Linked DNA regions of Homo sapiens. The protein of the gene in region 5 purifies or fractionates together with the protein of the main gene of each other region. This does not show direct contact. Each region holds a gene or a part of one and is shown on either strand. Other genes may lie near its edges.

Region 1 (4,287 bases), on a different chromosome or scaffold from region 5:
GTGACAGAAAAAAACACCCTTAAGAAAACACTTGTGTTCCTGAGGTCAGTTCCAAACCTTGGCAAGAGTCAGTTACACGAACCAAAAGGTAAATTATCTTTTGTGCTTAACGTAGTTAGAACTGAGCAACAGAAAGATTCCTGATCATGAAGACTTGAACTTTCTCAGGTCTTTAAAAAAAAAAAAAAAAAAAAAGAACATGACCTCTGAAAGGGGCATCATTCAAAGCTTTACCACTTTAGAATGAGTTCTCAGTATCTTCAGCTCATATATGACTAGCTTCTCTTTAAAAATTCTCTTTCTTGGCCGGGTACGATAGCTCATGCCTGTAATCCCAGCACTTTGGGAGGCCGAGGCGGGCAGATCACCTGAGGTCAGGAGTCCGAGACCAGCCTGACCAATATGATGAAAGGCCGTCTCTACCAAAAATACAAAAATTAGCCAGGCGTGGTGGCATGCACCTGTAACCCCAGGTACTCGGGAGGCTGAGACAGGAGAATCACTTGAACCTGGGAGGCAGAGGCTGCAGTGAGCCAAGATCGCACCATTCCACTCCAGCCTGGGCAACAAGAGCAAAAAGTCTCAAAAAAAAAAAAAAACTCTTTCTTGCGTGTAATCCCAGCACTATGGGAGGCTGAGGCAGGCAGATTACCTGAGGTCTGGAGTTCGAGACCAACCTGGCCAACGTGGTGAAACTCCGTCTCTACTAAAAATACAAAAATTAGCCAGGCATGGTGCTGTGCGCCTGTAATCCCAGCTACTCGGGAGGCTGAGGCAAGAGAATCACTTCAACTCAGGAGGTGGAGGCTGCAGTGAGCCCAGATCACGCCACTGCACTCCAGCCTGGGCGACAGAGTGAGACTCCGTCCTTAAAAAAAAAAAAATTCTCTTTCTTGGCTGGGTACAGCGGCTCGCATTTGTAATCCTAGCACTTCGGGAGGCTGAGCCAGGTGGAGCTCTTGAGACTCGGAGTTCGGGACCAGCCTGGCCAACATGGTGAAACTCTGTCTCTACTAAAAATACAAAAATTAGCCAGGTGTGGTGGCAGGCGTCTGTAATCCCACCTACTTGGGAGGCTGAGGCATGAAAATCACTTGAACCAGGGAGGCAGAGGCTCCAGTGAGCTGAGATCACGCCACTGCACTCTAGCCTGGGCGACAGAGCAAGACTCTGTCTCAAGAAAAACAACAAAAAAAAGCAATACAGAACTTCACCTTGTAGGGGCCGGGCACAGTGGCTCACACCTGTAATCCCAGCACTCTGGGAGGCCAAGGTGGGTGGATCACAAGATCAGGAGTTTGAGATCAGCCTGGCCAACATGGTGAAACTCTGTCTCTACTAAAAATACGAAAATTAGATGGGCAGGGAGGCACGCGCCTGTAATCCCAGATATTCGGGAGGCTGAGGCAGGAGAATCGCTTGAACCTGGGAGGCGGAGATTGCAGCGAGCCGAGATCACACCATTGCACTCCAGCCTGGGCGACAGGGCGAGACTCTGTCTCCAAAAAAAAAAAACAAACCCCATCTCGACTAAAAACACAAAAAAATTAGCCGGGCGTGGTGGTGGGCGCCTGTAGTCCCAGCTACTCAGGAGGCTGAGGCAGGAGAATGGCGTGAACCCGGGTGTTGGAGGTTGCAGTGAGCCGAGATTGCGCCACTGCACTCCAGCCTGGGCGGCAGAGACTCCGACTCAAAAAAAAAAAAAAAAAAAAAAAAACTTCACCTTATTGTAATTCAACTCTGAAAAAAACCTTGTGGATTTAGTTTCTAAACTCACATATTCTGAAGTTAAATGGAAAGCAAAGTGTCCTTGGACTTCCTGCTACTCTCCTTTAATCTTCTAGGCTAGAAATAGCTGTGTGATGTCCTCAGGATCTGAAACCTGGTCCTCAGACTCAGCGGCACAACCAACCTTACTCAGACCTAGGCCTGGACCCAGATTCTGGAATTAAACCACATCACAGGGTGAAAAGAAAACTCTTGGCAGTTGGTTTGACTAAAAATTATGGTTGGAGGCTTTTGTTCTTAATTCCTACATTACTCTTAAGGGACTCTCACTTAAAGAAGATCACATAAATACTTTTTAGAAAAGAAGTTTTTGTTTTGTTTTTGAGACAGGGTCTCGCCCTGTCACCCAGGCTGCTGTGCAGGATGCAATCACAGCTCACTGAAGCCTTGACCTCCTGGCCTCAAGCAATCCTCTCACCTCAGCCTCCTGAGTAGCTGGGACTACAGGCACATGCCACCACACCTGGCTAATTTTTGGGGGTAGAGACAAGGTCTCACTGTGTTGCCCAGGCTGCTCTCAAACTCCTGGGCTCAAGTGATCTTCCCACCTTACCACCCTGTCCTCCTAAGGCGCTGGAATTACAGGCATGAGCCACTGCATCCAGCCAAAATAAATATGTTTAAAAGAAAACTTAAGATCCAGGACAAGAAAGATTCATGGGGTCTTAAAAATGATTATCAAGTGTTAATTCCAACAGAGACACTCCCAGCAGATGGCTGCTCAGAGGCGGTTCATGTGTGAACACTCCTCAGGGAGCACTTAGGAAGGGCCAGGCACAGAGGTATGGGAAGGGAGTCATGCCCTGTCTCCACTGCCAGGTGGCTCTGAGTCCAGTGCATGGAGCTGGGCACATACAAAGAGAACCCCGTTATCAGTCGGAACACAGAGCAGGGTAGGTGACCACCCAGGGCAATTCCTCCCGAGCGTGGCCAGTACCCTGGCCTCTCACTAATCCAAGAGGGCCTTAACTCCAATTCACCCCAGGACAGACAGCCAAGCCACAGCACCTTGGTAAGCTCAGCCCTGAGCTCCTCCTCCTCAGCCTCTGTCAGACCCTCAACAGCAGGAGTCCGGGCAGCCACACCTGTGTCGACAGGAACATCCGTCATGGAGTCAGACAGCAGACCTTTGTTAGGAGAATTCAGGTTGATATCTGCCAGAGACAAAATGAGGCCACAAAGTGTCAAATAAGTTAGTTCCAAGTAAATACGGTAGAGGTCTCTAGCAGGACAAAAGCACAGGTGGGAGTGGGTGAGACCCTGGAGACTAACACCTCTTCTCTGAAAGGTCTGTGAGGACAGCATGGGCAGTAGACGAGGGCAGCCACACCTCAGACCACCTGAGCTGAAAAGCCAATGCCACTTGTGCTGCTTCAGGGCACGACAAATGCCGGCCCAAGGCAGGCAAACCCGAATTCTGGCTTCCCAGTGAGAATACTATCGTCAGAGGCAGGAAACCCTTGCTACAGAGAAAGCAGCTCAATCTAACAGACCTTCCACCTTTTTTTTTTGATGGAGTCTCACTCTGCCTCCCAAGCTGGAGTGCAATGGTGCGATCTCAGCTCACTGCAACCTCCGTCTCCCGGGTTCAAGTGATTCTCCTGTCTCAGCCTTCGAGTAGCTGGGATTACAGGCGCACGCCACCACGCTGGCTATTTTTGTATTTTCAGTAGAGACGGGGTTTCGTCATGTCGGCCAGGCTGGTCTCCAATTCCCGACCTCGGGTGATCCGCCCGCCTTGGCCTCCCAAAGTGTTGGGATTACAGGTGTGAGCCACCATACCCTGACAAATTTCCACTTTTTTTAAAAAAAGGAACCTAATATGGTTAATATACACAATAAGCATCACTTTCCTCTCAACACATCTGACAGAGCACATGCTAAAATTACGTACTAGGAGCACATGCTGCTCATTCAGCTCCTTCAGGGAGGCAGCAAAACAAAATTCCCTTTACTTACCTCCCGATTCTCATCCCACTGCCAGAAGGCCGCCAGCAGGCAGAGAGGTGCAGAGCGGTGTGCTGCCACCACACACCTCAACTACACCCAGATCACATTCAAATTCCTGCAGCCACTGTTTTTTCTTCATGTCAAATGCATCTTCCTGACTACCCTAAAAGTCTACAAGATTTCACATAAAGAAAAACAGTCTATTTCGATTCTCTCCAAATCCAAGCACATGACTATTGTAACACTTTCCCTGTTGACCAAAACATTCTGAAAAGAAACAGGCTTACTGCCAGGCGCAGTGGCTCATGCCTATAATCCCAGCACTTTTGGAGGCCGAGGCAGGTGGATCACATGAGGTCAGGAGTTCGAGACCAGCTTGACCAAAATGGTGAAACCCCGTCTCTACTAAAAATACAAAATTAGTTAGCGTGGTGGCACGCGCCTGTAGTTCCCAGCTACTTGGGAGGCTGAGGCAGGAGAATCACTTGAACCCGGGAGATTACAGGCGTTGAGCCACCACGCGCGGCCAAAAAAAAATTCTTTAAAAAA
Region 2 (4,287 bases), on a different chromosome or scaffold from region 5:
ACTTACAGATACATCTTCATCCTCACAGAGGTCTAACTGTGCATTGATAGCAGAATCAGCCAATTCTGGAAAATGCTTAAAGAATTTCGGAATAAATTGAGCTGCTAATCGCTTTTCCTTAGTACCACCTTTCACACCATCCAATATCACTTGATAGGCATCTTTATGCTGAAATAAAAAATAAAGCAGGAAAGACACATGATTTTGAAGGATGGGAAGCAAAGTAAAAGACCATAACAAACATGTTAGAGTGTGCTTTAAATTTTTACACAGGCTAAGAAATAAAGCTGATTTTGGGAGGTTTACTGCTCAAACTGACACTTACCTTCCCAATTCCGTTCTCCCTCCATCTTTGTTTCATTTTTGAGTTGGGGGAGATGGATGAGTCTAATTTTAAGTGGAAAAAGCAAATGTGTTTGTTAATATGCCAATACTTCTTCATTCTAGTGATTATTAACTCTGGCCATGTGACTGTATCATGCTTAAAAAATTTGTAATGGGCCAGGCGTGGTGGCTCACGCCTGTAATCCCAGCACCTTGGGAGGCCAAGGTGGGTGGATCACCTGAGGTCAGGAGTTCAAGACTAGCTTGGCCAACATGGTTAAACCCCGTCTCTACTAAAACACAAAAATTAGCCAGGCGTGGTGGTGTGCGCCTGTAATCCCGGCTACTCGGGAGGCTGAGGCAGGAGAATTGCTTGAGTCCGGGAAGCGGAGGTTGCAGTGAGCTGAGATCGTACTACTGCACTCCAGCCTGGATGACAGAGTGAGACTCTGTCTCCAAAAAACAAAACAAAACAAAACAAACAAACAAACAAAACAATTGTAATGATGGCCAGGTGTGGTGGCTCATGCCTGTAATCTCAACACTTTGGGAGGCCGAGGTGGGCAATCACTTGAGCTCAGGAGTTCCAGACCAGCCTGCCCAACATGGTGAAACTCCCTCTCTCTAAAAATACAAAAATTAACTGGGTGTGGTGGCAGACATTTGTAATCCCAGCTCCTCAGGAGGCTGAGGCAGGAGAATCGCTTGAACCCAGGAGGCAGAGGTTGCACTGAGCTGAGATCGCACCACTGCATTCCAGATTGGGTGACAGAATGAGACTCTATCTTAAACAAGTAAATAAATAAATCATCATGAATACCATAGAATTCACAAAGAATTGCACTGTATTTACTTAAACAAAAATTTACCTGTTTCTAATTAGCACCTTGAAGAAGGTGAAGGGAATACATTCCAGAAATTTAGCAATTCCAGCAATGTTAGGAAGTGCAGTTTAATTTTACCTCATAGCAGTATATGAAAGCCATGACAATTCACTCCATATAGCCAGACAATTTTGGATTAAGACGGACTCTAATGTCACATGTTTAAACCTTTTATTGGAACAATACACTCAAAGCTCATGTTTCCTTAAAAAAAAAAATCACAGGTGCTCTCCCTCAAATACTCATAATGGGAGGAATCAATAAGTTCCCAATCCTCCTTAAGTACTTGCCTCCAAACCAGTCCTTTTATGAAATGACACTGATAAAGATGGTAAATAACAGTAACAAATACAGAAAGACTACACATATATATTGTTTGGACATATGAATAAAACTTAGTAACTGGAAAAACAACTTAAAAATTATAATCTTGACCAAACATATACACAGTATAGTATTTATTATGTATAAGGAGTGTTCTAAGTGCTTTAGACACATGAGCTTACTTCATGCCATCAAGCGGGGAATGACCAATAAATATCCAATGAACTACAGAATTACCAAATTTATTTTACAGTGATTCTTTTTTGTTGATAATGCTATGTTAAGTGAAAAAATAAAGCAGGATGCAAAGTTACAGAACAACTCCCAAATAACAGAAATTTCTGTGAATAAGGTTAACTTCTTCATGAAATGCAGATATATGAGTCTTCAGGAGTCATCACTGAAAAGTGTATTATAAACACATCAAGACCCTGTCTCTCCAAAAAATATAAAATTAACCAGGCATGGTGGTGTGTGCTTGCAGTCCCAGCTACTGGAGAGGCTGAGGGAGGAGAATCACTTGAGCCCAGGCGATAAAGGCTGTGGTAAGCCATGGTCGCGCCCAGGAGTTAGAGGCTGTGGTAAGCTGTGGTCGCGCCACTGCACTCCAGCCTGACAGAGCAAGACCCTGTCTCAAAGAAAGAAAGGTATATGACATACTTTTCACCGCAAACATTAAAAAAAGAAATCATGCTGACTTCTCTACCACTTTACATTCCTGTGGTTTGCCTCAGACTTCTAGGCAGGCTTCATAAAATCAAAGTTTGTTCTGACACCCTTACTTTTTGCAGGGTATCACAAATCTAATTTTCTTTAACTCAAACTTACTCATAAAGCCATTTGAAGAAACTCCTTACACTGTCCAAAATTAAATGAAAAAAAAAAAACCCTGCTTAAAACAAAACTTCCTTTTGCCAAGAAAAAAATATTAAATCTGGAATCAAATAAAAAGGAATCATTAACAATATTTATTGAAGGTCTACCAGGGACTGAGTGATTCCTTGTCTATATCACAATAGGTGTTACTACTATTCTTATCTTTTAGATGAGGAAACTAGGGCTCAGAGAAGTGAAATAAATATTTCCACATATTTTTGAGGGATTACGAACTTGGTTGGTCAGTGGTTTTAGCTTAATCATACAAAAAACCCTACTACAAGAGTGGTTATTTCATGAAATAAAAGTCCAAGAAGCCTACACGCCAACCCTGCAAAGCTAGTATACTCAATGATTGAGAGAACAGGAGGAATCAGGGTTTCAGCATTATACAGATCTAATCAGCCCCACTGCCATGGTCCTTTAACAGGTGTCGGATACATTTTTTAACTTTTAAGATTTTGACTACATAATATAAAATTAAGTATCTATATTTAAAGTAAGTAAATTCATAATAATTTGAAACAGAATTTTAAATAATGGTGGGCCACAGCTTGCTCTATTATGGCTAGTCAGGAGCCCTGGGCAGAGTACAGTGGAAAAGGAGATCAGAAAGGTAAAGGAGCACACAAGAGAAGAGTGAGACCTGAAGGAGTAGCAGAGGCAGAGTGGGGGAAAGGCAGGATGAACGCATAGGCAGAACATGGCAGTTACATGAGAAGATGATAGGACTGGAAGATTTGAGGTATTAAATAATTCTGCACTTAGAATTTGTCATCTGCAGTTTGCTTATTAGAATATACATGCTCATATATGTATGTATGTGTGTGTGTATGATAAAGTTCCCTTTATCCATTAGAGATAATCTGTGTAAATGGTTTTTCTTTTCTTTTGTAAATGGTTTCTCTGTTCCTTCTTCCAATACATTTCTTCAACTATGAAAAAGAAATGCTTACTGAAGGGCAAGGTACAGTGCAAGAAGAGAAGCAATAAATAAATAAATAAATAAATACATAAAAGGATTTAACCCTTGAGACGTTATAATTTAAGTACAGAAATAAATAAAATAAAATACAAGTCTGAAGCATTATTAGTAAGTACATCGTACCAAGGGGTTCAAAAAGAGGATTTGATCTGCTTTGGGGAAATTAGCCGATAAAACCTCAGACGGCTTGTAAGTTTACCCTTATATATTTAGAAGGCACTACTCTGAAAGGAGTATTGACAATAATGGGGAGGGAATAGTCTGTAGTGGCAGCAATCAGAACACCTGTAGTGCTCACCTCTCTGGTAAAGGTTGATAATCAAAGTAAAAGTTAGAAGGAAGTCAAGACTGACAAACTTGAATGCAGTCTCAGAAGTATCCAGACAGGTATTTGCCAGGAAACTTAGTACTGATCATAAATCTCTCATAAGTTGACATGAAAATCAGGCTTTGCTACATCAAGAACATGAACACGGTTTTCTCTCCTTAAAAACAAGTGAAATGGTGTCCTCTCTACTAAGGTGGCTTTTGCCTTTGTTAGTTAAAATTACAAGCAATATCCTAAAACCTACTGTCTTTTTTAGTAAGTGATTTTAGGCATTTTATCTAAAAGGGGAGAAGTATAACCCAACAGAGCAGAATTAGTAGGCATTATCTTCGGTTTTCCTACAATTCACAATATTTGAGCTGCCTGAGCTAACCACTACATCTCATTATGCAGAGATACTGTTTAAATAGTTGCTTGACAGTTGTCAATACAGAACGCATTGATCACCCATAACCTACAGAGAATTGTGTTAAATTTCAGTGTCCAGCCGGGTGTGTGGTACATGGTAGGTGAAATGTACGGAATAAAGCATGGAGTCCTCATTAAAGTGTAGACAAAGGTATCCT
Region 3 (3,982 bases), on a different chromosome or scaffold from region 5:
AATGGTATACACTAGGTATATCACAGCTTCTAGTAGCTCCCATGAAAGTACATCCTAATTAAAGCTGCTTGCTATTATGGAATGATCATCATAGGTATTGAAGATAGGAGTGGTAGGAGTTATCAGGAAGGTCTCATAAATATGTTTTTAAAGTCTTTATATCTTAAAGACTTTAAGTCTTTAGTCCAGAGCACTGAACATGACAAATGAGGACATTTTTAATATAATAAAGGCCATAATCCAAAATGAATAAGTAATAATCATGATATTTACATAGCAAAAAGCAGAGCAACCACCCTTCTGAAGCAAAAACTACAGGAGATACATGGAAACACAGGACACAGTAGATTTTAATATACAACTCTTAGTATAACCTTAGTACAAAACAGATCACTTATTTACAAAAAATAAGAAACAGAAGATCTAAGCAACATAATAAATACAGTAAATCTCATGGATATATATCAAACTTTAGACCTTGATTATGGAGAATATACATCTAAGCAATCACAGCACAGTTATAAATGCTGATCCTATAGTAGGTCACAAAGAAAATACTGGCAATTTCCATAAAGCAGAAATATTACAATAAATAATTTCTGACCAAAATGCAATAAAACTAGATTTACAAATAAAAACAAAAAACCAGAAAGGTTCATCTACCTGGAATTTTTAAAACCTCCTAATAACTCCTAAAGAAAAGGAGAAACTTAAAAACGACATTGAAAACACTATGTATCAGAATCAAGATACATTGAAAGCACTGATCAGAGAAAAATTGATTGCAAAAGACACTTTAAAAAAAAATTTTTTTGTGTGTGTTCTATTTACTTATTTTTATTTTTAATTTTTTGAGTCAGGATCTTTCTCTGTGCAGTGGCACAATCATGGCTCACTGCAGCCTTGACCTACCAGGCCCAAACTATCCTCCCACCTCAGCCTCTCTAGTAGCAGCTGGGACTACAAGCACATGCCAATGTGCCTGGCTGATTTTTAAATTTTTTGTAGAGTGAGCGTCTCCCTGTGTTGCCCAGGCTGGTCTCCGACTCTTGGGCTCAAGTGATCCTCTCACCTCAGCCACCCAAAGTATTGGGATTACAGGTGTGAGCCACTGTGCCTGTCCATAAAACACTGTTATCTATATAAATGAAAGAATAAAAACAATAAATTTTAATGGGAAAACAACAATAATAAAGTAAATCAAAGAAAACACAAAGAAGGAAATAATAAATATGAAGCAGAAGTCAGTGAAGTAGAGAACAGAAAAATAGATCCAATTAGTAAATCAAAGTACTGATTTTTTGGAAAAGTTAATAAATAAACTACTACCTAATTTGATCAAGAAAAAGAGAAAAAGAACAAACACAAAAAATAATAAATGATATAGGTAAAATAATTATGGGAAAAAAGATTTAAAATTAATTTACATGTCTAATTCATAAAAGATACTTTGCAGACTTTTATGCAAATAAATTTGAAATCTTAGATGAAATGGATAATTTCCTGTGGAAATACAAATAACAAAAATTGACCCCATTACAGCAAAAAAGCTTAAACAGACTAATTTTCATACACACAAAAAACAGTCAACGTTATTAAGGAACTATCCCACACAAAACAGTACTAGGTCCAGATGGTTTCAGAGGGGGATGCTAACAAACTTACAAAAACCAGAGAGTCCCACTGTTCTAAAATTATATAAGTATATAACATACAAATAATTATAAACATAAATTATAATGCACTATAAATTATAATGAAATATAAATTATTTCATTAAAGGAACCAAGATGGTGACTTTCTTGATTCCCTTAATATGATACCTAGGCCAGATAAAGACAATTCAAAGGTGGGTAACTATAGACTCACATCAGTTATGAATGTTGATATAAAAATTCTAAACAAAATATTTTGGCAAACTCAATTCAACATCACATTATGAAAAACATACTCCGTGATCAAGTGAGATTTATTCCAGGAAAGCAAGGTTAGTTCGGTACTGGAAAACTCATCAACAGATGCCATGTTAATACATGTAAGTAAATGAAGTATATTACTATCTTCATAAATGCTGAACAAGCCTTTGACAAAATTCAACAATCATTCATGATAAAAACACTCAATAGGCATCAAGGGGCATTTTCTTAGTAAATTATGTACATATCTTAATCCTACAGCAAGTATCTTGTTTAATGGAGAGACAAAAATACTTCAACAGAAGCATTTCTACTAAAATCAGGAACAAGGCAAGCATGCCTACTATTCCTGCTACTATTTTAACATTGTACCTGAGTTATTAGCCAATGCTAATATAAAAACAGTAAGAGGCATACAAACAGGGTAATGAAGTAAAACTATCTCTATTTTCAGATGATATCATACTATACCTGGAGAACTCAAGACAATCAGTGAGATAAGAGAATAACAGAGTTCAGAAAGTAACAAGATATAAACTGACACAGAATTCAACAGCTTTCATATATACGAACAACATTGGGCATCAGTTACATGTCCATATATAATAGCAACAAAGAAAACTAAATACTTATAGACCAGTGGTTTTCAACTCAGGATGCTTTTGCCTCCCAGTTGAAATTTTGCAACATATGGAGACATTTTTGGTTGTTATAAATGTGAGGGTGCTACTGACATCTAGTGGATGGAGGTCAGGGATACAGCTAAACATCCTACAATACACAGGACAGCCTCCCATAAAAGAGAAATACCTAGCCCCAAAGGTCAACAGTGCCAAGGTTATGAAACCGAGCCAGACAAGTCAATACCATCCTAAGATTCATTTGTAACAACAAACATTCAAGAACAGTGAGGGAAACAATGAAAAAGAAAAACCATGAGAGGATACTAGCCCTACCAGACATTAAAACATACTATAGATCCTCTACAATAAACAAGGAGACCACTGGCAAAGGTGATGAGATGTCTCACTTCCGAGATGACATTTTGTTATATAAGACTCTATCCTGCTACAGGACTTGCTCTAGAGATTCTCCACAGCTGGCTTTGAAGTAAGTGGCCATGCTGTAAAGGAGGCCGTGTGGCAAGAAGCTAAGGACAGCCTCTAGTCAACAAGAAGAAGATGAAGCCCTCTGTCCAGAACCACAAGGAAATGAATTCTGCCAACAACCTGTGTGACTTGGAAGCAGATTCTTCCCCAGCACAGCCTCCAGATGAGAACCAGCCTGGACGACACCTTTAGTGCAGCTTTGTCAGACCCTAAGCAGAGCACCTAATTAAGCTGCATCCAGATTGCTACTTAAGCCACTAGGATTAAGCCACTATGACATACTGGAACATCCTGTGTGTCAGAAAGTAAGAAAGTGCTCCAAATAGTATGAAGTCATGTCAAAAGGACACGGAAGCCAACCTGAAGGAACTCTTAGTGGTCAAAGTTGGAATAACTTGAGCAACAAGATAAATATTGATGGCATTGGACTTTCATCTATAGAACAAAAGAGATACCCACGATATATATCTATATCTATATCTATATCTATATCTATAGAAAAGACAACTCTTCCTTACAGATGAATTCCAATTAATGTAGAAGGAAAGGGAGAAATCAAAAATCACTACTAGTAGTACCCACAGTAGTACTGTTGCAGGCAAGATCCACCAATGGATGCTAAAATTAGTGGGTGAAAGTTTGAGAAATGGAATATATAGACTCAAAGTATCTCCCTCCCATGTTCATTAACAATAGAGGAAAAGATTGTGACTTCACAGTTAAAAAACCCAACAGACACCACCTTAACCAAGGAATCAAGGCTAACATGACTAGTAATGAAACACACTGACATGATGAAGCCTTGAAATGAGGCAAGAAGGACATATAATTTCTGTGAAATATTTGCCAAAAAAGCACAACTGCATTGCAATCATGAGAAAATATCAGAAAACCCAAACTGAGAGATATTCTACAAAATAAACTGACCAGTAGTCTTCAAAGGTGTCCAAGGCAGAA
Region 4 (4,287 bases), on a different chromosome or scaffold from region 5:
ACAAAAAAATTAGCTGGGCATGGTGGTGGGCGCCTGAAGTCCCAGCTACTCGGGAGGCTGAGGCAGGAGAATGGCGTGAACCTGGAAGACGCAGCTTGCGGTGAGCCGAGGTCGCACCACTGCACTCCAGCCTGGGCGACAGAGCGAGACTCCGTCTCAAAAAAAGATAGCTATTCATTAGACATTGAAAGAATTATAAAATAGACATACAAAATTACAGAAAGGTTAGAAGAGTAATCTCTATCTCTAGAAGCTACTGAGCCATTACATTTCTTTGTACATTTTTTATGTGAGCTAAAATCAAAATTTGCTTCTGAGGACCATTATACGATAAAAATAAAGTGTGGGATAAATCAGCTCAACTGAAGCCACATCCAAAGCTGTTACTCAGAAAACTTAGTATCACTGAGAGTATATTGGAGAGCTCAAAGTCTTACTCAGGCAGCTGATCAAAGAATAATGGTCTTAGTCACTGTAAGTACTTTTGGATACCTGGCATAAAGGATGTAATGAATACATGATTGAATAAGGATATATCTTAAGAATGCATTTTCATAAAAACATAAAATCAGTTGAGATTATGTAAATTTTGAAGAATGAAGAAAGTAAGTTATCATAGCTTCTTCTCAAGTTTTATTTTTATGTCTTACAAATATGGCTGGGCAATACAACACAAGGCTTCCTTTTCAGGAATTTGGAGAACTTATGCTTGGTATTTTAAACTCATGAGAACTTAGTCTAGAAAGGGCCTCCACTTATTTGACCACAGGTAGAAGATTGGCTCTGCTTTCTTCCTGTAATAATATTGGTTTCTATAGGTCAAATGATACACAGTATAATTTTGTGGCATTTTGATTACAAGTTTTCCATTTAAAAATGGACAAAAATCAACTTCTTACTTGAAATTTTGGAGGTAGTATGTTACCAAAAAAAATGGTAGTTCTTGTAAAGGTATACCTGTGTCTAGACATAAGTTGCAGGTTTAAAAATCAATAGATTTGAATAAAGTTAAAGTCTAGAAAAATATGCAATGTATACATGCGGATGATTAGTAAACCCTAATATCCAAATGCAATGTCAATAGTGTTACTAAAAATGAACTATCGGCCATTATTGCAAAACTGCCAACTGAGAATATTGATATAGATACTAACTGTATTTATTTGTTTTTTCAGCAATTTATTTTAAAACAATCTTGGATATATTTAGTTACATCTGGAATAAACTCAGGTATTACACAGGGCCTTGAAACATTTATAAAAGGGTATATTAAACCCTGCCTTTAAGAAAACTATCATCTGGTCGAGGAGGGACATTTGTCAGTTGAAGTTCTTCAACGAGCCTGGAGGGAATGTCGCAGTGTGTTCTGTTTGGAAAGTAAGTTGTACCCTGACTGCCACTATGGAAGCTGAAGGGGGAGATACAAGCTGCTGCCTTCCAGATATATTTAAGAGACACTGATTTTGGAATAAGTCAGTGAATAAAAATAGGGGCTCAGGACTCATCCGAACGTGGGGTACTGATGCTGCTCAGATTCACTGCCCTGTGTTCTAGGGAGGGTATCGAAGCCCAAATTGTTGCTTTCTGCAGGAAACGAGTGTTTCCTGCCTCGTTTCCCACTGGAGTTGCCACATGTTGTGTTTTGCAAGCCTACTCCATCGGGTGTCCTGGGAATTCTATGAGCCACCCCTATGTTCAAATACTTAACTTTTTTTTTTTTTTTTTTTTTTTTTTTTTGAGACGGAGTCTCGCTCTGTTGCCCAGGGTGGAGTGCAGTGGTGCGATCTTGGCTCACTGCAACCTCTGCCTCCCGGGTTCAAGCGATTCTTCTGCCTCAGCCTCCCAAGTAGCTGGGACTACAGGTGCGTGCCACCAGGCCTGGCTAATTTTTCTATTTTTACTAAGACAGGGTTTCACCATATTGGCCAAGTTGGTCTCAAACTCCTGACCTCGTATTTTTTTTTTTCTTCAACAGTCAGTATCTGTTTTCGTGCTTACAACCAATACCCCCAACTTTTACAGACACAAAAGCAAACATAATAGACTTATTATTCCTTGTTATGGGCACTCGTTAAACATTTACAACACGGAAACACATGTCCTTTTGTTCTGGAAAATGTTTTAGAGTGGATTCTAGGTTTCATGTATTCCTCCCCCTTTTTCTGGATGAAGGGAGACACCAGGATGGCAGTTGTGTGCCTCTCCTTCTAGCCCCAAGTCAAGCTTCTAATGGAGTCTTTCTAAGGAAGTTGACGTTGGTAGAATTCCTGCTGCATCACAGGGGAGTTTCAGGTCAATTTATGGTAAATACAGAAAAAGTCAGTCCCCAGAATGACAATTATTAGCTCTAGGTGGAAAAAAAGTTATGTAGGAGGGAAAGCAAAATCATTTTTACCATGTAGTTTAACTAAGAGTACTGGCAAGGTCATAAGAAATAAATGCCAAATATTGATATAATCATATTTTAATACAAATATTTCTGAAAGAGACATGAGAAGAGTATTTTATGTGGTGAGTTTGGGGAGAGAAAGACATCTAAATGAATAATGAATGTCTAAAATTGAAAAAAAAAGTATTAGTGTCATAAGCATGCTATTCAGAAAAGTGAACATAAATAAAATAATGAGTTAGAAGTAGTAAAATTTGTTGTCTCAAGGTAACAAAAATGAGGAAGGGCAAGGGACTACTATGTTTCGGGAAAAACAAAAACAAACAAACAAAAAACCTGTAAAGCCCTTTGACCCTTTGCACTACATGCACTTATAAAATACAAAGAACAAGGCCAGGAGTGGTCGCTCATGCCTGTAATCCCAGCAATTTAGGAGGCTGAGGCAGGTGGATCACCTGAGGTCCAGAGTTCAAGACAAGTCTGACCAACGTGGAGAAACCCCGTCTCCACTAAAAATACAAAATTAGCCAGGCATGTTGGCATATGCCTGTAATCCCAGCTATTCAGGAGGCTGAGGCAGGAGAATCACTTGAATCCGGGAGGCAGAGGTTGTGGTGAGCCGAGATTGTGCCATTGCACTCCAGCCCGGGCAACAAAAGTGAAACTCCGTCTCAAAAAAATAATAATAAAATAAAATACAAAGAACATTGCATTGAGATAAAAATTACAATGTATCATTGATTTGAATTTTTTCTGCATGTAATTCATCAGTTAATTTTATTCTGTAGAAATTTTTCCCTGCTATTTCTCCATGGCAAATGAAAGTAGTGATCGTGAAACATTGTGTTTTATTCATTCAAAACAACAGAATACAAGACAAAGGAAAATATTTCTATACCCTACAAGAACCAAAAATCCAAAAGTACACACTAACACTAGAAAAAGTGTTCTGAACAGGTTGACCATATAACTTATTCTAACAAGGATAATACGAAATAAACCAGAATTATCCCAGACATTTATTACTCATACTTCCAAATGGACCTTTTCTTACATCTTACAAGATAGTTAGTGCTCTGAATCTGGAAAAATATGTGTAAACCGACCTTGAGGATTTATAAAATTTCCTTAGAAAGCATTGCAGTTAATTCTAGAAGCTATTTTTCTACCTATTGAATCACTAGAAATAGAGAAGCTTTTAAAAAAATTAACTTGTTTTTAGTTTTCAGATACATGTTTTAAGAGCCCAGAGTCTTGGCTGGAAGAACTCTAATGAACAGATCAGTGAAAAAATATACTTATACAGAAGTCTGAAGGTGGAGATCAGTACTTTCTAGATGTTACATTTTAATAGTAGCTAAACTAATGATGACATGTTTATATTGTCTTATATTTTTTAAAGATATTTTCTTATCACTGTTGTGAAAAAGAAACTTTGTACTCACAATTTAGCGTCTCCACTTACACTTTATAAGCATCTTTATAATATCGTCAATCTTGCTGAAATTTCATATAAGCAGTACAAAATACAGTACATCATTATAAATCAAGGAGAAGCATTTTGGTCACAGTGATCTCTAATTACAATGTGGACTCTCTCAATTTAGAAAACTACTGTTATACAGCTGTAATTTTTACTTAATGCCATTCTATACAAACCAATATAACTTGGATGTTCACAATCCACGAATGCCTACTAAAAGTATTTTTACTTACTTTGTCTTTTAAATTGATAACCCATGTATTTTAAGTTTATATATATAGTATTTTAGTAATACACTGAATTACTTAAAACATAAATTGGAGTTTTTACTAAAAATTATATCTTCACCTACCTGCCTCCCATTTTAAGCATGATTACAAGTAAATGAAATTTCTATTTTATTTTCTCAACATAT
Region 5 (4,287 bases):
TTTTTTTTTTTTTTGAGATGGAGTCTTGCTGTGTTGCCCAGGCTGCAGTGCAGTGGTACAGTCACAGTTCACTGCAGCATCTGCCTCCCGGGTTCAAGCGATTCTTGTGCCTCAGCCTCCCGAGTAGCTGGGACCACAGGCATGCCCCACCATGCCCAGCTAATTTTTATGTTTTTAGTAGAGATGGGGGTTTTACCATGTTGGCCAGACTGGTCTCGAACTCCTGACCTCAAATGATCCACCCACCTTGGCCTCCCAAAGTGCTGAGATTACAGGCATGAGCCACCACACCCAGCCCCACCTATGTTACATTTCTGCCACCCTTCTGTTTCCCAAGTCATCTGGATTGTTGATTCTGCTCTTTTCCCCTCCTTCCCCTGACACTTTATTCATATATCTGATATAGCATCTGTCACAGTTTACATTGGATAGGCTTGTAGATGCCCCTTCTCCCACCAGTGTGCGAACTCTTTAGGGATAACAGAGTAAAGAGGTTAAGAATAGAGACTTTGGAATCTGCCACTTACTAGCCATGTGACCTTGAGCCAATGGCTTCTCTGAGTCTCAGATTCTTCATCCACAAAATAGAAAAGTAATGGTACCAACTCTGTTGGTTGTGAGGAAATGAGATATTATATATGTGGGACACTTAGCACAGTGCCTGGCATATAGTGAACATGCAGTAATGATTGTTTTCTTTGTACTCTCAGGGTCTGGTGCCTAATGAGTCTCAGGGTTTTGTTTTGTTTTTTGAACCAAGCTGAATAATGTAAATGGAAAAATTCTGTTTTCTCAGTGTCTTTCGGTAGATACATCTTATACCATTTTGTTCTCTTCTAAAACAGGGCTTCTTAATCTGTATAAATGAAGGAAGCCACCCCTTTTTCCCTTTTCCCCTGTAACTACCCTTTTTAGAGATTTTAGGTTTTGTTTTTGAGATGTTCTTTTGAATTCATGAAATCCAAGATGAGCCAATCAGGCCCAGCAGACCAAATTAGAGCCAGTTGATAGCATGGTGGGCAGAGAAAAGGGATCTAAGAGAGCAGAGAGGGTAGGTGCAGCCAGTGTCCCTGAGACCAGAAACTGAGCAGACATCTCCTGGCTTGCACAGGAAGGGACCAGAAACAAACTCTGGAAGAAGCCCTAGAAATGAGGCCCCAGTCTTTACCATATTGTCAGTGTAACCTTGCCTACATTACTCAGTCTCCCTGAGTCTCTGTGTCCTCACCTGTAAAATGAGCACAATGGTATCTCCTTCTGGGATGGTGGTAAGGATGATACATTCTACTTGCTGTGTAGGCACAGTGCCTGCCCATAGGAGGTACTTAGTAAATATTGGCCGCTCTACAGGGATGAGCAACTGTGGGTGTTCCTCAGTAGCTGTGACTGAATGCTAACCATATGCTGGGCCCTGGGTTCGATCTAAGTGTGTGTGATGAAAAACATAAGAAAGGGGACCAGTGAGATGTGCTAAAGTGATGTCAGGAAAGTGTGGAATCAGATGACATGGGCAGAATTAGAGAAGAATATAAATTAACAGGAAAACTTCTTTTCCTTCCCTGAGTCGATGAACCACTTGAACCACTCTGGACTTTTTTTTTGGTGGGAGGAGAAGACACGGTCTTGCTCTGTCACCCAAGCTGGAGTTCAGTGGCATGATCTCCACTCACTGCAACCTCCGCCTCCCAGGCTCAAGCAGTCCTCCCACCTCAGCCTCCCAAGTAGGTGGGACTATAGGCACATGCCACCAATCCCGGCTAATTTTTGTGTTTTTGTAGAGGCGAGGTCTCCCCATGTTGCCCAGGCTGGTCTCAGACTCTTGGGCTCAAGTGATCTGCCTGCCTTGGCCTCCCAAAGTGCTGGGATTACAGGTGTGAGCCACCGTGCCTGGCCCACTTTGGAATTTTCCAAGAGATTAAAAATCCACAAACATTTAAAATGTGGGCCAGGCACGGTGGTTCACGCCTGTAATCCCAACACTTTTGGGAGGCTGAGGTGGGCGGATCACGAGGTCAGGAGATCGAGACCATCCTGGCCAATGTGGTGAAACCCCGCCTCTACTAAAAATACAAACATTAGCTAGGCATAGTGGCATGTGCCTGTAATCCCAGTTACTCGGGAGGCTGAGGCAGGAGAATCGCTTGAACCCGAGAGGCGGAGGTTGCAGAGAGCCGAGATCGCGCCACTAGCGAGACTCCCATCTCAAAAAATATATATATATTAAAATGTGATTAATATTTAATTTTACCTCTAATTGAATGATTTACAAATAGCCTTTTGAAATACTTTTGTTTGGAAAGATTTATAATTTTGTTTTATCTTTGTCTTTTTCTCTCTCTTAACATTTTATTTTTCTTTTCCCAAAGGTGGCAGAAAGAGCACTCTATTATTGGAATAATGAATACATCATGAGTTTGATAGAAGAAAACTCTAACGTCATCCTTCCCATCATGTTTTCCAGCCTTTATAGGATTTCAAAAGAACATTGGAATCCGTAGGTTTTCAGTTTCTTTCCTCCGTTCTCTTCCTCCCTTCCTCTCTTTCTTTCCCTTCAGCCTTATTATGTGCCAGATGCTGTCCTTGTTGCTGAAGACGTATGTGAAAAGATAAAATCCTTACCTTCTGGGGATTCACTGACTGGAGAAAATAAACAGATACTTTAACAAAATACCGGTTAAAGTATCTGTTTACTAGACAGGCTTCTTGATCTGTCTATGAAGGTAGCAGATCTTTTGGGGAGGCACTGCAGCTGAGAGGAGAGGTGTGTAGATACTGACAGCATGGCCATGCTTAGACTGAATCTGAAAGGAATTTGGCAGGTGGATGGCATGGGGAGAGCCCTTTCAGACAGTGGGTCCATCCATCATGTTAAAAGGCACAAAGATGTAAAAAGCAGCTGTCAGTTTCTGAGACCTGTGAGTTTGGGAGGGCTGAGGCACAAGGTCTTTTGGGGAGGGTGCTAGAGGATGTGGCTAGAAAAGACTGTGGGACTCGTGTGAGCCTTCACCAAGTAGATGATGAGGAAGTACTGAAGGGTTGTTAAGTGGGGAAGTGGTCTGACTAGGTTTTCATTTTAGTGTGATCTATTTAACAGCCAACTCAGTCGCTATATGTATCTCTTGGAAAGGAAGGAGTTTAAAATCATCAAGGGAAGTTTAACATCCAGCCCTATGAAAGTTAAAGCATTCTGAATTTGAATGCCTTTACATTTTTCTCTGTGGAATAGAAGGAAAATTTAATGTGGTATTTAAAAATTGGGAGATACAATTCAGTATATTCATAATATGTTTATCTTTAAAAATTTTGCATGTAATTATAAAATATCACATTTCTAATTTTTCAAATTTGCCTAATTATATTAATAGAACTTGTAAAAATAAGGAGCTGATAAACAGTTAAGTCCCTTTATACAGATAGTCTCTTGAGGACCTAGAGAACGGTTCTAGCAAGTGTCTGTAACTACTCAGTATACTACATTTGGTGCTTTCCCATCACTGCCCTTGGGAGGAAGGTCATTCTGGAACCTTAACAGAAAAGAACTTAAATTTTCCTTTTAATGGCACAAGGCAGAAGCTACACAGCAAGTGTACTTTCTTGTAAATGTTTTGGAAACATCAGACTCATGGTTTATTTAATATATGGCTAATTTTTACCAATGCATTTTTCAGTGGTATTAGGAGCATGTTTGTTGCAAAACGGAAGCAACGGATATTTTTGCAAAAGGAAAAGCTATTTAGACTCTAGTCTGAAGCTATCAAGCCCATCATAACCTTGTCCTCACATTGCCCAAGAGCTAATTCTTGTTAAGTATGGGCTACCATTTTGGCTGTTTAGCTGTATAGTGTCCCATAGCTAATAGCAACCATCCCAGCTTGCCAGTTATCAGCATATATTTTGGGTCAGCAGGACTGGTGCAGATCAGAGCTAGACAGATAATTCATATTGAACCACCCAACCTACATGAGGGCTTGATTTCATTTCTTTGGATAAGAATAATTTATATATATACACATATATATATAACATTTGTTTCTAGGGAAGTAGCTTCTGATTTTGATGAATTATGTGTTATTTAGAAAATAGAATTCTATGCAAATTCAGATGTCTAAGGTTAGTGCTATCACAGATCCTTATTTTAGGGTGAAATTGCTTTACTATTATACTTGCCTTTTTATTAAATGAAATTATCAAATGCCCACAGGCAGCTCTATTCTGGGTGCCAATAATTAGAAGGGCAGGCCAGGTGTGGTGGCTCACGCCTATAATCCCAGCACTTTGGGAGGCCGA
Region 6 (4,287 bases), on a different chromosome or scaffold from region 5:
CATTGTGGCCCTGCTCATCATGCCACTGGGCTACTTGTTCCAGGGTCACTGACACATAGGCCCGCAAGCACTCTCCGCCATTCTGGGGAGACAGGGGTGGCAAGCAAGATTAGTAATCGAGGGACAGATGCCAGAAGGCCCTCAGTCTGTATAAACAAATGTTCCCAGAGGCCTATGCCTCATAAAAGCGGTGAGTCTATAATGTTTGTGGTGGGCTCATACCACTGGAGTTAAGACATTTACTGTTACAGACATAGACGTGCATTACATAATTCCCCCTTTACCTAATCAGCTATCTCACAAATGTGTATATATATTTTTTTAATCACAAGGGACAATGGCCAAGCAAAATGAATTTTAATCATAAAGGTCTACCTCTGGTACTAAAAAAATATGCTTACAATCTTGGAATAACTGGGGATACTGTAGGTCTTTATATAGGTCTTACACAAACCACTAGTTGCCTAGGGATTTCCAAGCTGATCAATATTCACTGGCAAGTTCCTATAACCTTTCTAATCAATCACAGTAGCAGACACCTGAAAAGGTAACCAATTCACCCAAGAAACAAAAAGAGAAAAAATATTCAGGCATGTCTCCCCTCTCTAGAGGCCCATCACTCTGCTGACTTTATTACTAGAAGAAATATGCAGAAAGACTTTCTTATGGCCCCAAGTCTAGATGTCTGTAACCTCTTTCACAGTAGCAATACCCAATACAGATGGGCAGGGTGCTTGGTATCCATATTTTTAAAAACTGTAACATGCTCCAAAGCACCAGAAATGCTTGGCTTTTGCAGACTGAACCCTTCCTGAATCTGCTAAGTAAATATGGAGTTGAGAATTCCGTATTTCAAAAGCATAAAACCATGTCAGATTTCTCAGCATAGTATAAGCCCATGGCTGGGGAGCTATCTTCCCTCTTCTACTCTCCATGTCTCAGATACCTGCATGGTGGCATTGTCATCTGTGTGAAGGGTACACTGTGCCACAGCAGGGAAAGCTTGGCAGATGAGAAGCTGGGAAAGGGGAGGCTTTGTATTTCGTACTACTGTTGTCAGGATATCAATGGCTGTCTGAAAGAGAGAAGAAAAAGAAAAGTCAGAATTGCCTCTGGGGTGGGGGTTGCCCAACAACCAAGATCCTTACTGGATGGGTATTACATAGCAACCCAGAGAAAGCTTATTAATGAAAGGCAAGTTTCCAAAATAAAAGGAATAATTAAATGGGTAGTACTCTCAGCCTTCTCATAATAGCTTACTAATTGATTAGCCATAGGGGTGGGCAGTAGTACATGGTAGTGGATTGGATAACCAGGTGACATACTTAGTGGCACTGTGTAAAGGTGGCACTCTGTTCAATTCACTGAGGGTACCTCTGGAACAAGAAGAGCCATTTTCTTTCTTTCTTTCTTTTTGAGGCAGTCTCGCTCTGTCACCCAGGCTGGAGTGCAGTGGCACGATCTCCACTCACTGCAACCTCTGCCTCCTGGGTTCAAGTGATTCTCCTGCCTCAGCCTCTTGAGTAGCTGGTACTGCAGATGCCTGCCACCATGCCCGGCTAATTTTTGTATTTTTAGTAGAGATAGGGTTTCACCACATTGGCCAGGCTGGTCTCGAACTCCTGACCTTGTGATCCACCCACCTCGGCCTCCCAAAGTGCTGCAATTATAGGCATGAGCCACCGCGCCAAGCCAAGCCATTTTCTTAAAGCTTCAGAGAATCACCCACTGTCCTTGCAGGCAAAAGAGCTCAGCAAAATCACCCCATGAATCTCTAACGCTATTAGGTTCTTGTCAGCTAGATGCATCTGTGGGTGGCACTTGTAGATCTCTCTCACACACACACACACACACACACGGCCACTTACCGCACAAAGCCCTGCAGGAATCTTGTCTGCTGGGGCCTGCATTATGCTGACCAGAGTGGGAATCAGCCTCATTTGCATTGGGCCCTGACAGGCTTCAATCTGGGACAGCTCCTTGAAGATGTCCTGAGCCAGTGAGGCGACGACGGGATCTGAAGTGGATAAGGCAACACGGAATCCCCCTGCCTGATGGTCTGCATCTGCTTCTCGCTTAATGATGCCTGTTGTTTGGCCCTAACCTAAGTTAACAACTTCTGCATTGATTACTTATCACATACCCGGGACCTAGTGGGGCCACATGAATAACCTGAAAGAACAGGAGAGATCCTAAATCTGCAAGAGGTACACTTTGTATGGCTTCATTAAAGTAGGGACTAGTCATTAACAGCTACTCATAAAACAAAATGTGGCTTTTTCTAGAGAAAAATCTTTAAAGTCTTTATTCTTGTGAAACCTACGTTATAAAACCAAATGCTTAAAAAAAAAAAAAAAGCCCAACTGATACTTTAAGAAGACATGAAAGCTGCAAAAATTGCCAAAACACTGGCTTTGATGCATGAGAGAAATCATACATATCTCCTATGGGGTAGCCACGGTAGACATGAAGAACTCTCAAAGCTACTTCTGGGGCAAAAGGCAAAACTCCTAAAAAGCAGAGCCTTATGAAGAAAGGGAACTTTAGCTCAATCTTCTTTATCTATAGAACAAAACATCCTCCTCTATTTAGTATGGAAAAATATAGGCAATGTGCATTAAAGTATACCTTAAAAGATCACTGCAGCATTGTTTGTAATAGAAAAAAATTGGGAATACCCTAGATGTCCATTAACAGAATGGGTAAATTATGATATACCCATTTTATGGAACATTAGTAATGGCTGAAAAGAATGAGATATATCCAAGAACACAATGTGGAAAGCTCCTCAGTACACATTTTTCAGTGAAAAAGCTATCAAATAACATGTTCAGTATATCACATTATATAAATAATCCTTATCCTGTACATCTTTCTGAGCTTCAATATTGGAGCTCTCTCTTTAAAAAAAGAATCCTTAATATTTTACTAGTAATAAGGTATTAATAAATACATTCACTACAGGAAAAAAAAAACTTAAAATGCAGAAAAGTAATAATGAAAACACCTGTAATTCCACTACCTAAACACTCAACATTTTGATGTATTTTTTTTTAAAACATACCTATCTATACATACATGCTTTTCTAAAAGAAAAATCAAAACTTGGGATCATATTCTATGGATTTTTTGGGAAAAGTATCTTTTCATTTATTATAATGTAAGCTCTTTCCCATGGTTTCAGATATTCCTTTTAAGCTTGATTTTTAATGGCTGCACAGTATTTCATTTTATGGATATAATTAACTAATGTCTTTTTATAATTTCCAAATTTTTACTACTGTAAAAAATATCTAGTGAATACCTTTGTTTATAAACTTTTCCATATATCTTTCTTTAGTATCTCCTTTTCTAAATTATAGTCCTAGCCCTTTTCTTTTAGGAGGCTTTTCATTTGCCCAATTTCCTATTCTATCATCAAAGTTCTGAATTATGTCTCTTGCTTATTAGCCCTTTATTTATTATCTTTATCCCTAAGTCCTTACTAGAGAGTAAGTGTTACAGAAATAGGTACTCTATTTTTTAATGCTGCTACATTTACAGCACAATTCTATTTTTTGCTAATTGAAAGCCAGATTCTTTGCTTACGATGTTAAAACCATAGCTTCATAGCTAAGACCAGACCTAGGGAATCTTTCATTTAAATTCACCAGCCACCACCTTTTCTTTGGTGCCCCTCATAATACATCCTCCCTGGCAGCATACCATTACTGTACTTTAGGAAAATGGCGATGGTGAAGGGGCAGATTTTGCTTTCCATGCTTGCTGTGAATTCGGGGTCTACTGTACAAACGATGCACAGGGTCTCCATCACCAGGTTGAGGACCTCTGAGCTGAACTGGGCTGCTAGGTGAATTAAGCCATCAAGGATGCTGGGGAGGAAGGGCTGGAGCACGTGGGTACTCTCTGAGACTTTCAGTTGGTCACAATAACTAGAGAGAGATAGATAAGCAAGAATTATTAAAAAAAATTCAATTCCTGGTTTTCCCAATCAATCTCACATATTATAGCATTTGTATGTGTAGCTTTATAAAGCTAATTCTAAAGTTAGGTTTAAGTTTCTACTTCTTTCTGGATGTATTATATAAACATCAACACCACCATTTCTATGTTCTGTAATTTATTTCTTTGACTTTTGCTATTTTCTTTAAAAACTTCTGCTTTTTTTCTTGAGGTTTTTTTTTTTTGCATCCTGAAACAAGCTTAATTTATATAAACATTTTATGTTTCACTTTCAAAATCAGCCTATTAGCTGTAGGATTTAAAGTTCCCTCTATAGTTTTACTG
Region 7 (4,287 bases), on a different chromosome or scaffold from region 5:
TCTGAAGCTCATATTTTTTTGTTTTGAGACAGTCTCACTCTGTCACCCAGCTGGAGTGCAGTGGCATGATCTCGGCTTACTGCAACCTCTGCCTCTCTGGTTCAAGCAGTTCTTCTGCCTCAGCCTCCCAAGTAGCTGAGATTACAGGCGCCCACCACCACACCCAGCTAATATTTTGTATTTTTAATAGAGATGGGGTTTCACCATTTTGGCCAGGCTGGTCTTGAACTCCTGACCTCAGGTGATCCACCCTCCTTGGCCTCCCAAAGTGTTGGGATTACAGGCGTTAGCCACCACGCCCAGCCTAAAGCTCATATTTCTATTGAGATATGAGGCTTAATAAATATAGCATATGGGTTGAGCATGGTGGCTTATGCCTGTAATCCTAGCACCTGGGAGGCTGAGGTGGGAGGATCCCTCGAACCCAGGAGGTCGAGATTGCAGTGAGCTGTGATTGTGCCACTGTGCTCCAACCTGGGTGACAGAGTGAGACTCTGTGTCAAAAAAAGCATATGCTTATAATAGGACATATACCAAGTCTGTTCTAAAATGCTTTACATATATTAATTCATTTAACCTTCCCAACAACTCTGGGAAGTAGGTGCTATTCTTTCTATTTTACAGTTAAAGAAACCGAAGTCACACAGCTAATAAAGGTAGAGCTGAGATTCAAACCGAGCTGCTACAGTACTCTCAACCATGCCACTAACCACCTTTCTGATTTACTGAATGATAACAGCAGTGACTCTGAATTCAGTACATCTTGCATTATAATTTTGACTTTTTCTCTTTTTTGTATACTCCTTCCACTGCAGACCCAGTTTTCAAAATATGCTACCTACAGTAAAAATCTAATGTAACGTATTTAGCTCATTTTTTCCCCCCACCAAGCTTCTGTTTTAAAGTAGTTTTTATTATCCTTTACAGAATTAAACTGAATATTCTCCTCAAATAAGTTCATCAGTGGCTTTGGGGGCTGTATGGGTGAGTTATTAGGCATTATACCCTTAAATATTTTAGCATAAAAGGATTGAAAAAAGTACCTATTAATGCACTACTCTAGCTTTTTTTTCCCTATTTTTTTCTGGTCTTTATAGCTCGGTTTCAAACTATTACAATCATGAAGTGACATTAATATTTTTTTTCTTTGCATGATTTTTGTGTTTGTCTTTTTTTGTTGTTGTTTTTGAGAGAGGGTCTCACTCTGTCACCCAGGTTGTAGTGCAATGGCACAATCTCAGCTCACTGCAACCTCCACCTCCCAAGCTCAAGTGATCCTCCCACCTCAGCCTCCCAAGTAGCTGGGACTACAGGCATGTGCCACCATGCCCAGCAGTTTTTTGTATTTCTTTGTAGAGATGGGGTTTTGCCATGTTGCCCAGGCTGGTATCCAACTCCTGAGCTCAAGCAACCTGCCCACCTCGGCCTCCCAAAGTGCTGGGATGACTAGCATGAGCCACAGTGCCAGCCTGTGTTTGTCTTCTAATACTAAAATTACAGTGTACATCAAATAGGAAAAGGTTAGGGATAGTTCAGCACTTCTTTTTTATTTGTTGAATAGTTGTTCTTTATTAACATTGTCCCTGACTTGCCTTTTCATCCAGAATTTTCCTCTGCTAGATATATTTTCATTCAAAATACCAAAGAGTAACCAACGTACCTAAATTTTTGTTCTTTTCCGTCAACACTTTAGGAAGCAGGTAACATAAATCGATCATTGAGCTGCCTGGGCCAAGTGATTACAGCACTTGTCGACGTGGGTAATGGAAAACAGAGACATGTTTGCTACAGAGACTCCAAACTTACCTTCTTACTACGGGTAAAGTAGATCCTTGGGTTCCTGGGCTCCTTTTGGTTATGCTAAAGTTGATAGTGGGACAGTCTCTCAGCCTTGGTGGCAAGAGTATACATTTTCTTTGCTTAAAAAGGTCTTGTGATTTCTCACCGAAAATATGTTCATTCCTATCATTAAACAGGATTCCCTTGGAGGTAATGCCAAAACAGCCATAATTGCAAATGTTCATCCTGGATCCAGGTGTTTTGGGGAAACCCTATCAACACTTAACTTTGCTCAAAGAGCCAAGCTGATTAAAAACAAGGTAAAATACTGGCGTATACTTCATTAAATAAATGAGAAAAATACTAAAGCTTACAGTATGCCATTTTTGTGATTGCCCTAATATTAACATTAACTTTTATTTATTTCTCATTGTATGCAAAATTTCTATTTTATCTTTCCTACCCTTCTATATCACACATGTAATTAGAGACCTAGGTTAGATCTTATGGTTGTTATTGCTTGACTAGTTTTTTCTTTTTTTTTGAGACACAGTCTTGCTGTGTCACCCAGGCTGGAGTGCAGTGGTGCAAACACAGCTCACTCTAGCCTCAACTTCCTGGGCTCAAGCGATCCTCCTGCCTCAGCCTCCTGTGTAGCTGGAACTACAGGCATGCAGCACCATGCCAGGCTAATTTTTTTATTTTTTTAATTTTTATTTTATTTATTTTTTATTTATTTATTTTTTTGAGACAGAGTCTTGCTCTGTCACCCAGGCTAGAGTGCAGTGGTGCGATCTCTGCTCAGCTGGGACTACAGGCGCCCACCACCACGCCCGGCTAATTTTTTGTATTTTTTAGTAGAGACGGGATTTCACCGTGTTAGCCAGGATGATCTCGATCTCCTGACCTCGTGATCCGTCTGCCTTGGCCTTAATTTTTTTATTTTTTGTACAGGTAGGATCTCACTTTGTTGCCCAGGCTCGTCTCAAACTCCTAGGTTCAAGCAGTCCTCCTGCCTCATCCTTTCAAAGTGCTGGGATTACAGGTGTGAACCACTGTACCCAGCTGACAAATTTTTTCTTAAGGGAAAGCAAATTAAGTATGTGAGTCTTTCTTCCTGCCAACAGCCAATCAATCAGTTCTGCAGCAGACATCAGCTGAGTGTCTTCTGATTCAGTTCCATCCTGACACTTTATGTCTGGAGATAGGGTGAGATCTCACAGGTTCAGGGCTCAGTCCTACAAGACTGCGCCCAACTTCTGATGCCAATTGCAAGCCCCAGCTTGTCCTATCTGTGCTTTCAGACCAACTGGCTGTAAATCAGGAGGTCCATGTTGCCCCTTTCCCTGGGTAAATCAGAAGACTATAGATCTAGTCATTTATTTTATTTCCTTGGACTATGGAGTACTAGTAAGATGAGGAGGAAAAATCATTAGAGCTTCCTGACCCTAAGTCTCTTAAGATTTACTAGAAGTCTTTGGAGATATAGAACTGCAGCAATAATTAGAATTATGAAGTCACTGATGGGACAGTGATGTCAGAAGTGCAGTAGTACCTTGTAATGAGGCTGGCCATAAGAATCAGAAGCAACTGGAAATGGCTGCTTAACACACAAAAGAACAAAACCAAGAGCCTTCTACTAGTCACTCTCAATGGTAAGCCCTTTGCAGCCTATCAGTGGAAAGTGCCAGAGTATCTGGGACTTGTTTAAGGATGTGCTATTTAAATTTTTCCGTGAGCAAATTGGGCTTACAGCGAGAATACAGAAGACCTTGGGGCTGTCACAGGGTGTTTTTTCCTTGCTGGAGTACTGAGTATTTCACAACTGAGTCCTCTGACCTGGTTGGTACTCAGCTGTTGGCACTCGTTATCACCCTTTAGGCTTTGTGGACCTTTTTAAAGCTTTATTTTTTTAATTAATCAACTTTTTTTTTTTTTTTGAGATAGAGTCTCGCTCTGTCAACAGGCTGGAGTGCAGTGGCGCACATGTGTGACCTGCCCCACTCTTGACATCCTGCCCCACAGTGGCACATTTTGTTTGTGAGTCCTTTAGCCTTTTAGAAGTTGTCCTAAATAAGACATTTCTTTAAGAAAATGAAGATAATCATTTAGTGTGGTAAAAAATTAAAAAAAAAAAAAAAAAGGAAGTGTCAAACCAACCCCTCCTTCCAAGAGGGCTGTTAAAAAATAAAGGTCGGATTCCTCTGGAGAAGGTTGCTTCTGCCAAGCTCAAGCCCACCCTGCAAGTCATCATGCACTTAGAGGCTAGGCTCCTTCCCCGTAGGGAGCTAGGAAAGAAGGGAAATGATACTCACTGAGGTATTGGCTCTTCTCCATTGGGAGGGTGGGGGAAGGCTGTCGTTCTCAGGGAAAGAAGTATTAGGTGAACACACCCGGATCCTAAGGGTGACCCAGCCTAAAAGCTCAGGGCTAGTCAGCTGGGGGGCAGAGAGCCTGGCTGGGGCTGTCTCTCTCTGGCTCCAGGTCTGAAGGCACAAGAAAAGGAAG

The links.
Region 1: the proteins of PPP2R5E (region 5) and TPD52L2 fractionate together in Homo sapiens (co-fractionation; one large-scale study listed by BioGRID). This does not show direct contact.
Region 2: the proteins of PPP2R5E (region 5) and API5 fractionate together in Homo sapiens (co-fractionation; one large-scale study listed by BioGRID). This does not show direct contact.
Region 3: the proteins of PPP2R5E (region 5) and SGO2 purify together in Homo sapiens (co-immunoprecipitation; one study listed by IntAct). This does not show direct contact.
Region 4: the proteins of PPP2R5E (region 5) and CD226 purify together in Homo sapiens (co-immunoprecipitation; one large-scale study listed by IntAct). This does not show direct contact.
Region 6: the proteins of PPP2R5E (region 5) and IPO9 fractionate together in Homo sapiens (co-fractionation; one large-scale study listed by BioGRID). This does not show direct contact.
Region 7: the proteins of PPP2R5E (region 5) and KIF15 fractionate together in Homo sapiens (co-fractionation; one large-scale study listed by BioGRID). This does not show direct contact.

What each region holds. Positions count from the first base shown.
Region 1 is NC_000020.11:63,867,951-63,872,237, reverse strand, and holds part of TPD52L2 (tumor protein D54), read right to left. Parts: intron 2,943-4,287; coding exon 2,797-2,942; intron 1-2,796.
Region 2 is NC_000011.10:43,314,521-43,318,807, reverse strand, and holds part of API5 (apoptosis inhibitor 5), read right to left. Parts: intron 388-4,287; exon of another isoform or gene 326-387; intron 169-325; coding exon 7-168; intron 1-6. UniProt on the Homo sapiens protein: Antiapoptotic factor that may have a role in protein assembly. Negatively regulates ACIN1. By binding to ACIN1, it suppresses ACIN1 cleavage from CASP3 and ACIN1-mediated DNA fragmentation. Also known to efficiently suppress E2F1-induced apoptosis.
Region 3 is NC_000002.12:200,577,691-200,581,672, reverse strand, and holds part of SGO2 (shugoshin 2), read right to left. Parts: intron 1,139-3,982; coding exon of another isoform or gene 1,135-1,138; exon of another isoform or gene 1,005-1,134; intron 1-1,004. UniProt on the Homo sapiens protein: Cooperates with PPP2CA to protect centromeric cohesin from separase-mediated cleavage in oocytes specifically during meiosis I. Has a crucial role in protecting REC8 at centromeres from cleavage by separase.
Region 4 is NC_000018.10:69,857,011-69,861,297, forward strand, and holds part of CD226 (CD226 antigen isoform a precursor), read right to left. Parts: 3' UTR 1-4,287.
Region 5 is NC_000014.9:63,382,651-63,386,937, reverse strand, and holds part of PPP2R5E (serine/threonine-protein phosphatase 2A 56 kDa regulatory subunit epsilon isoform), read left to right. Parts: intron 1-2,366; coding exon 2,367-2,494; intron 2,495-4,287. UniProt on the Homo sapiens protein: The B regulatory subunit might modulate substrate selectivity and catalytic activity, and might also direct the localization of the catalytic enzyme to a particular subcellular compartment.
Region 6 is NC_000001.11:201,866,378-201,870,664, reverse strand, and holds part of IPO9 (importin-9), read right to left. Parts: intron 3,933-4,287; coding exon 3,706-3,932; intron 2,018-3,705; coding exon 1,869-2,017; intron 1,076-1,868; coding exon 947-1,075; intron 83-946; coding exon 1-82. UniProt on the Homo sapiens protein: Nuclear transport receptor that mediates nuclear import of proteins, such as histones, proteasome and actin. Serves as receptor for nuclear localization signals (NLS) in cargo substrates.
Region 7 is NC_000003.12:44,795,858-44,800,144, forward strand, and holds part of KIF15 (kinesin-like protein KIF15), read left to right. Parts: intron 1-1,693; coding exon 1,694-1,819; intron 1,820-1,976; coding exon 1,977-2,099; intron 2,100-3,337; exon of another isoform or gene 3,338-3,431; coding exon of another isoform or gene 3,432-3,434; intron 3,435-4,287. UniProt on the Homo sapiens protein: Plus-end directed kinesin-like motor enzyme involved in mitotic spindle assembly.